Homo sapiens: one gene and its partner. The protein of the gene in region 1 purifies or fractionates together with the protein of each later gene. This does not show direct contact. Each region holds a gene or a part of one and is shown on either strand. Other genes may lie near its edges. The genes, in order: EIF4EBP2 and TBCA.

Region 1 (3,812 bases):
GGTGTGGGGAGATCAGGTGGCATCTAAGGGGTTGGGGGAGGTTATGGGGGTAATGAAAGGGTTCTAAAATTGATTATGGTGATGATTGTACAGTCCTGCGAATCAACTAAAACTATTGAATTATACACTGTAAGTGGATCAATTGTAAATGAATGCTATTTCAATAAACTTGTAAAATACCGTATCTTATCAGCTCTTTAAGGTCATAGAGGTTCTTCAGAGTTTCTCTTATACCTCACACATTTAGGCAGAATCTCCACTACCTATATCCTAGTTGGTTTAATTGCAATTCTTTAATGTATGCGTTGTTGCTGATACATAATTTAGAAAGCTTGCTTCTGTGCTGTGCTTTTTTCACCACCTCATCTCCACAATTTCCAAGCTTGATGTACTACAGAAGTAAGAATAATCTTGTTCCAGTTTGCAAGTTGACTCATCTGACAGTGAAACCTCACCCTTCTGAAATCTCATCATGAACAAAAGTGGGGTAACTCAAACAGATAGGCAAAGTCCATTGTTAAAGCTCCTTCCCTTTGTTCATTGGAAGGCCATCAGACCCCCTTTCAGCCTATTTGCCCTTATTTTACATAGCATGCTAATAAGCAAGTTGCTGATTTCCAAACCCACCAGACTAGAAACACCAAGTTAGAAAGGGTGTTAAGGGTGTGCTATACAGATTGAATTGTGTCTCCCCAAAATTCTTATGTTGAAACCTTAATTCCCAACATGATAGTATTAGGAGGTGGTGCCTTTGGGAGTTAATTAGGCTGAGTTGAGGTCATAAAGGTGGGACCCTCATGATGGGATTTGTGCCCTTATAAGATGGAACACCACAGAGTTGAGGCCCCCTTACCCCCATGTAAGGGACACAAAGAGAAGGCAGCTACCTACAAGCCAGGAAGAGAGCCCTCACCAGAAACCATCCATGCTGGCATCTTAGTGTTGGACTTCTAGCCTCCAGAACTATGAGACAATTTCTGTTGTTTAAGTTGTGCAGTCTGTGGTATTTTGTTATGGCAGCCTAAGCTGACTGAGTCATAGTAGTAGCCTGGAAAAAAGGTAGCTCTTAGTCTAAGGGGACAAGGGCACTGTGGGGGAGGGGTGCACCAGCACAACTTTGACCATCCGAACTCTGTATAGTGATGTTCAGCTGTACAGAGCACCAACTTGATAGGGCTTAGAGACTTCTTAGGTCACAACATAGTATAATAAACAATTTTCATAATACTGTGATTCATCAAGAGGGTTGAATCATTTTCTGTTGAAGGCCATAAAGGGATTTAAATCTGTATTAGAAGTATTTTCATTCAAGATAATTGAAATTGTTTACCCTTTGAAAGTTGAACTAAGTTTTGTGCTACCCAGAATGCCTCGTTCCTCATAATTTCTAGATGCCTTTTTGAGTGCTACTCTAGTTTTTGTTTTTCAAAGCAAAGAGGTTGAAGGTAAGTTTCTACTTTCCTTGTCCTAAAATTATATTTGATTTACATTTTGAGGCAGGATCTTGCTCTGTTGCCCAGGCTGGAGTGCAGTGGTGCAGTCATAGCTCACTGTAGCCTCGAACTCCTGGACTCAAGCTATTCTCCTGGCTCAACCCCCGAGTAGTAGGGACTTCAGACCAACAGCACCTCACTTGGCTCTTTTTAAAATAATTTTTTTAGAGACAGGGTCTCACTATGTGGCCCAGACTAGACTCAGACTCCTGGGCTCAAGCAGTCCTCCTGCCTTGGACTCCCAAACTGTTGGAATTACAGGCATGAGCCACCATGCCCAGGCTCTCTTGTCTTTTTGATAATAGCCATCCTAAGAGATGTGAAGTGATATCTCATTGTCGTTTTGATTTGCATTTCCTTGATGATTAGTGATGTCGAGCACCTTTTAATGTACCTGTTGACCATTTGTAAGCAGCACGTTTCCATAACTGTTTATCAGTTAAAGTGTACTCTTCAAAACTATTGTTTTTAAAACATTCAGGTAGCACTTAACTGGTAAGCAGATTGTTTTGTAGAATAGAGAGGGGCTGCCAGTTTCAGCTTTGACTATAGCTGTGAGAAGAATGTTAGTCTCAGTCCTTCTTTGGAAAGCCTTTAAAAGGGGCTGTTTATTTTTTCTCATACTTGTTTATTCTTTCATTTAAAACTTTTTTTTTCTTAAAGATGTTAATGTTAGGGCCTAGGTCACATATAAATAAGACATAGCCCTGACATAAGAAACTCAGAGTCTATAAAGAGAGACAGATGGATAAACAGGAGTCCTGTAATACATGATGTGTGTAAGATGGAGAGGAAGAACCTTTTAAAAAAGTGAGGGGTGGGGGTGGCTTCATAAAGGAAGTGATGGTTGGAGCTGAGTCTTGAAGGATCAACAGGAGTGTCCCTGGCAGAAGAGAAAGGGCATTCCAGATGGCAGAAGAGCCTGTTTACAGGCAGAGAGGTTAGAGATTATGCTTTCAACTTGAATTGTAAAATCCTTAAAAGTTAGGATTACATGGGATTTAAATTAAATTCCTGGGTGGTATTATATGTTGATAACCCCTTAAATTGTTTCAAACTCTTTTTAACCCTGTTTTCCAGGAACTCGAATCATTTATGACAGAAAGTTTCTGTTGGATCGTCGCAATTCTCCCATGGCTCAGACCCCACCCTGCCACCTGCCCAATATCCCAGGAGTCACTAGCCCTGGCACCTTAATTGAAGACTCCAAAGTAGAAGTAAACAATTTGAACAACTTGAACAATCACGACAGGAAACATGCAGTTGGTAAGAGAATGGCGATGTTGGAGACCTAGAGCGTGGCTCTTGGAATTTGAATGTCTGTTTGCTGTAGGTTGAGAAGCTATTGATTCTTCAGTTTTGTTTTTTGTTTTTTGTTTTTTTTGAGACACAGTCTCATTCTGTCACTGAGGCTGGAGTGCAGTGGCACAATCTCAGCACACTGCAACCTCCGCCTCCTGGGTTCAAGCGTTTCTCCTGCCTCAGCCTCCCGAGTAGCGGGGATTACAGGCGCCTGCCACCACGCCTGGCAAATTTTTGTATTTTTTAGTAGAGACGGGGTTTCGCCATGTTGCTTAGGCTGTTCTTGAACTCCTGACCTCAGGTGATCCACCTGCCTCAGCCTCCCAAAGTGCTAGGATTACAGGTGTGAGCCACTGTGCCTGGCCAATTCTTCAGTTAATAACTAATGTTCAGTTATATGTCTCTAAGGTTTCCCTCCTCCCCCAAAGGTTTCTTGAAATACTCTGAAAACCCTGAATTCTAAATCATAAATCTGATGTAGTTGGTGGGAGAAAAGAATCCAGAATCAGGATGATAAACCCCAAAAATGACTCTTTGAACCATGCCTTAAGGACTTCCTGGCCTAGGCTTCATTGGACTAAGGATAACACACACAGAAAACAAAACAATTTCATAGCCCCCATTTCCATCACCCTCAGGCAAATAGACCTTGTTTCTTTTGTTTTGTTTTGTTTTTTGAGACGGAGTCTTGCTCTGTTGCCCAGGCTGGAGTGCAGTGGCACGATCTCGGCTCACTGCAAGCTCTGGTTCCCGGGTTCACGCCATTCTCCTGCCTCAGCCTCCCAAGTAGCTGGGGCTACAGGCGCCTGCCACCACGCCCGGCTAATTTTTTGTATTTTTTAGTAGAGACGGGGTTTCACCATGTTAGCCAGGATGGTCTCGATCTCCTGACCTCGTGATCCGCCCGCCTCAGCCTCCCAAAGTGCTGAGATTACAGGTGTGAGCCACTGCGCCTGGCCGACCTTGTTTCTTATATGAGTTTCTTTTATATGGTGTGAGGAAAAGCGGTATGGTTTA
Region 2 (4,341 bases), on another chromosome or scaffold:
GGGTGTCTTTGAAGGATGGTACCAAGAAATTTTAAAAAGGGGGTGGGCTCGGTGGCTCATGACTGTAATCCCAGCACTTTTGGAGGGTGAGGTGGGCCTCACCTGAGGTCAGGAGTTCTAGCCAGCCTGGCCAACGTGGTGAAACCCCGTTTCTACTAAAAATACAAAAAAAAAAAAAAAAAAAAATTAGCCAGGCATAGTGGAACGCGCCTATAATTCCAGCTACTCTAGGGGCTGAGGCAGGAGAATCACTTGAACCCAGGAGGCGGAGGTTGCAGTGAGCCGAGATCAAGCCACTGCACGACAGAGTGAGAATCTGTCTCAAAAAAAAAAAAAAGAAAAAGAAAAAGAAAAGCAATTTTAAAAAGGGCGATTCTGCCCTGTATTCCTCAGGAGATTCTCTTAGGAAGGGACTGCTAGAGCTCACTGTAGATGTGCCTCATTTTATGCAACAAATATATTTTTGAACATATAAAATAGTCAAATGTTGTTCAGCATCTACCATGCGTCAGACAATGAGCTAGGTGTTTTAACCCTTATACCTAATCTGTAAAATGGACATTATTATTTCCATTTTGCAGACTGATCAGCTGCAAGGCTAAACAGCATACGTATCAGTGTTGTCTAGCTAATAGTCTAGCTATTAAAGGGTGGAACCTCGATTGTAAGCCGGTTTGTCTGATTAGGAAGCCCAAGGTTTTGTGTGCGACACACATTCTTGTAAGTTAAATATTTAGGATACACTATAAGTGATCATCTGAAGAAGTTCTGTTAGTCATTTCCTTTGAAAGGCACGTTATCTACAAACCTTCTTGCAGGGATTTGAGGTAAAGGGCAAGGATTTTCTTGACTGCGTGCATGATGGCAGTTTGTTTCACTACACATGCATCACTCTGCCTCATCTGACACCAGATAACGACATCGAAAATACCCTTAATACATTTTTTAGGTCACTCCGTCCATTAAGCAGATAATCCCGCAAAGCAACGTCCCAGAGAGACGTTAGTTTCCCCAAAGGCCCAGGCTGTGGAGACCGGGATAGTGTAACTTGCGCCTGAAGTAAAAAGAGGGGCAGTCCGAGAGAGAGGAGGAGGGCACGTTTCACTACGGGTAAAGGGGCGCACGAGGGGTAAAGGGACTGGCGGGAGCAGGGTACCGCCCTCTAGTAAACCCGCCCCGCGGGGCGTGGCGGGGACGACGGGCCGCGCAGCCTGCGCATGCGCGCCGGCGACCACGCCTAAATAGCCGCAGCCTCTGCGCGTCGCCCTCCACGGTTACCCCGGCTCTCCGCCCCTCCTTCTCGCGGCGCTCGAGGGACCATGGCCGATCCTCGCGTGAGACAGATCAAGATCAAGACCGGCGTGGTGAAGCGGTAAGGAGCCGGGAGCGGCGCCCTGCACCTCCTCTTCGTCACCTCATGGCGGCCCGCGAGGCTGAGCGGAGCGCAGGCCCGAGGAGGCCCGAGGCGGGCTCCGAACTCCAGGCCGCACCCGGGGCTCCGCAGTTGGCTGGGACTGGCAGGGACCCAGCGGGGCGCGCTGACGCCCGAGCCCGCCAGCCTCGCACGCCGCTTCCCGTCCCTCTCCGCTCACTGGCCGCTCTGATTTGCCGGAAGAGTCGGCGGTGGCCCGGTTTCTCGGCGCCCGCGGTGGGAAGGTGGTGGGCCGCGGCCTGCGAGGGCGGGCCGGGCCCTGATCCCGTGCCTCCTGTGTGCGCGCGCCGGCCTCTCCTTGCTGAACTTGGCCCGGGGAAGCGGGATCCCAGCTGTGCTCTCAAATGGGCTTGAAAGCAGGCTCTGAAGTTTAGGGGGATGCGGAGGATCTGGGCCTCGTCAAAAAAGACCGTAGTGGAGCCGTGTGACCTAACATGGCTGGCGTGACTGGCAGGCTTTGAGAACTGGGCCTGAACTTCTAGCACACTCAGCAAACTTATGTGGCCTCACTTTCTCCAGTCAGATTCCCCGAAGCTCGCCCCAGAGGCTGTGAGATGCTGTTTAAATAACTTGTGAACCAGAAGTATCTGAGACAGGTCTTAATTTGGAATGTTTATTTTGCCAAGGACGTGCCCATGACACAGCCTCAGGAGGTCCTGATGACATGTGCCCAAGGCGGTTGGGGCACAGCTTGGTGTAATACGTTTTAGGGAGACCTCAGATATTAGTCAATGGGTAAGGTGTACCTTGGTTCCCTCCAGAAAGGCAGGACAACTAGAAGGTTGGGGGGCATCCAGGTCATAGATAAGAGACAAATGGTTGCATTCTTTTGAGTCTTTGATCAGCTTTTCACTTAATACACAATTTACATGTGAGAGAGGGATAGAAGAATAGTCACTTATGCCTTAGTCGGCTAAATGAATCTGCGATTTTACATACACAGTAGGGCAGAGGAAGCAGTCAGTTACGCATTTGTCTCAGGTGGGTAGAGGGGTGACTTTGAGTTCTGTTCTTTGTCCCATACCTGTGAAGATAAGCTATCAATTTACATTGCCAGGGTGAAATACAACAGAACTGTTTTAGAGTGAAGGTCTTGAGGCCCACAAGGAATTTCCTTGGGGGCAAATTGTCAGGGAGGTATGTAGCTTTTTTTTTTTTTTTTTTAATCTTTGTAGCTATCTTATTCAGGAATAAAATGAGAGGCAGGTTTGCTCGATGCAATTCCCAGCTTGACTTTTCTTTTTGGCTTAGTGATTTTGGGGTCCTGAGATTTATTTTTCCTTTCACAAACTCATGGGTAGTGCAGTCCTGTAATTTGCTTAAATTCCTGTAAACCAAGAAAGTACCTGAGACAGGTCTCAATCAGTTTAGAAGTTTATTTTGCCAAGGTTAAGGATATGCCTGTGACAGCCTCAGGAAGTCCTGATGACATGTGCCCGAGGTGGTCAGGCTACAGCTTGGTTTTATACATTTTAGGGAGACAGAAGACATCAATCAATACATGTACGATGTACATTGGTTTGATCTGGAAAGGCAGGACAACCCAAAGCGGGCTGGGGACAGTTCCAAGTTATAGGAGGTTTTCCAATTGGCAGTTCGTTGAAAGAGTTTATCTTAAGACCTGGAATCAATACAAGGGAGTGTGTCTGGGTTAAAATAAAGGGGTTGTGGAGATCAAGGTTCTTATTAGGCAGATGAAGCCTCCAGGTAGCAGGCTTCAGAGAGAATAGATTGTAAATGTTTCTTATCAGACTTAAAAAGGTCCCAGACTCCTAGTTAATTTTCTAGTGGATCAGGAAAAAGACCTGGACAGGGAAGAGGGTTCTCTACAGAATATAGATTTTCCCCTTAAGAGACATCTTTGCAGGGCCAATTCAAAATATGTAAAGAAATATATTTTAGAGTAAAATGCTTTTATTTCTTTCAGATCCCGCTATCTGTCCTGTGATGCCATACTAGAGTAAAGCTGGAATTTGGTGTCTTATTGTTACAAAAAGCCTTAAGATCTGTTTTAATGTTAATGCTGCTCAATTGTTCCTGAGTTCCAAAGGGAGGAATGTGTAATGAGACATGTCTGACCCCCTCTTCCCATCATGGCCTGAATTACTTTAGAATGCCCTTAGTTGAGAGGAGGGGTCCATTCAGACGGTTTTGGAGCTTAGAATTTTGTTTTTAGTTTGCATTCCTGAGTGCTGGTAGACCCTTCAGTGTTCATTAGAACTTTATTGTTCAGACCCAAGAAGAGCAAACTTTTTGATGAAGTATTACAAGAGAAAAGATAAACAGCCTTCTGAAGAAGCAAGTTATTTTGTTGTAGCAATGTCTACTAAAGAAACCAACTGGCTTCTTCCTGTTCGCCCACCTTTCCTTTGTTTATTGATATTTCCACCAGAGGAAGGACCAGGCAAAAGGGAGAATAAATTCACTTTTTAAGATAATGCTTCTGAGTTTTAGCACAGCATCCCACTTCCCGGGAAGCTTTATTGCCAAGGCAATAAGGAGACCATGTGAGTAGGAGTTAAATGCACAGCCATTTGTGAAGTGAGACTGCTTGGGTTCAGATCTTGATTCTGCCCTTTATTCTATGTTGTGGAATATATTACATTGTGCTGTGCCTCTTTTACCTTATTTGTAAAATAGAGCAAGCACCCAACTCAAGCAGTTGTTGCAAGAACTGCCTGCTATGCTGTTTAATACAGTATGTGGCAAATAGCAAGTGGGTAGTAAATGTTAATAATACTGTTTGGATTCTCATTTTACATATGAGAAACTGAGGTTTAATGAAGTTAAAAAAAGAAAAAAAAAACTTGTCTAAAGTCACACTACTAGTTAGTGGCAATGCAAGGAAAAGGACCAAGGTTTCAAATCTACAACTTTCTCCTTTAAGCTACAGTGCTCCCGTAAAGAGT

The links.
Region 2: the proteins of EIF4EBP2 (region 1) and TBCA fractionate together in Homo sapiens (co-fractionation; one large-scale study listed by BioGRID). This does not show direct contact.

What each region holds. Positions count from the first base shown.
Region 1 is NC_000010.11:70,417,341-70,421,152, forward strand, and holds part of EIF4EBP2 (eukaryotic translation initiation factor 4E-binding protein 2), read left to right. Parts: intron 1-2,573; coding exon 2,574-2,759; intron 2,760-3,812.
Region 2 is NC_000005.10:77,773,236-77,777,576, reverse strand, and holds the start of TBCA (tubulin-specific chaperone A), read left to right. Parts: upstream 1-1,237; 5' UTR 1,238-1,319; coding exon 1,320-1,372; intron 1,373-4,341. UniProt on the Homo sapiens protein: Tubulin-folding protein; involved in the early step of the tubulin folding pathway.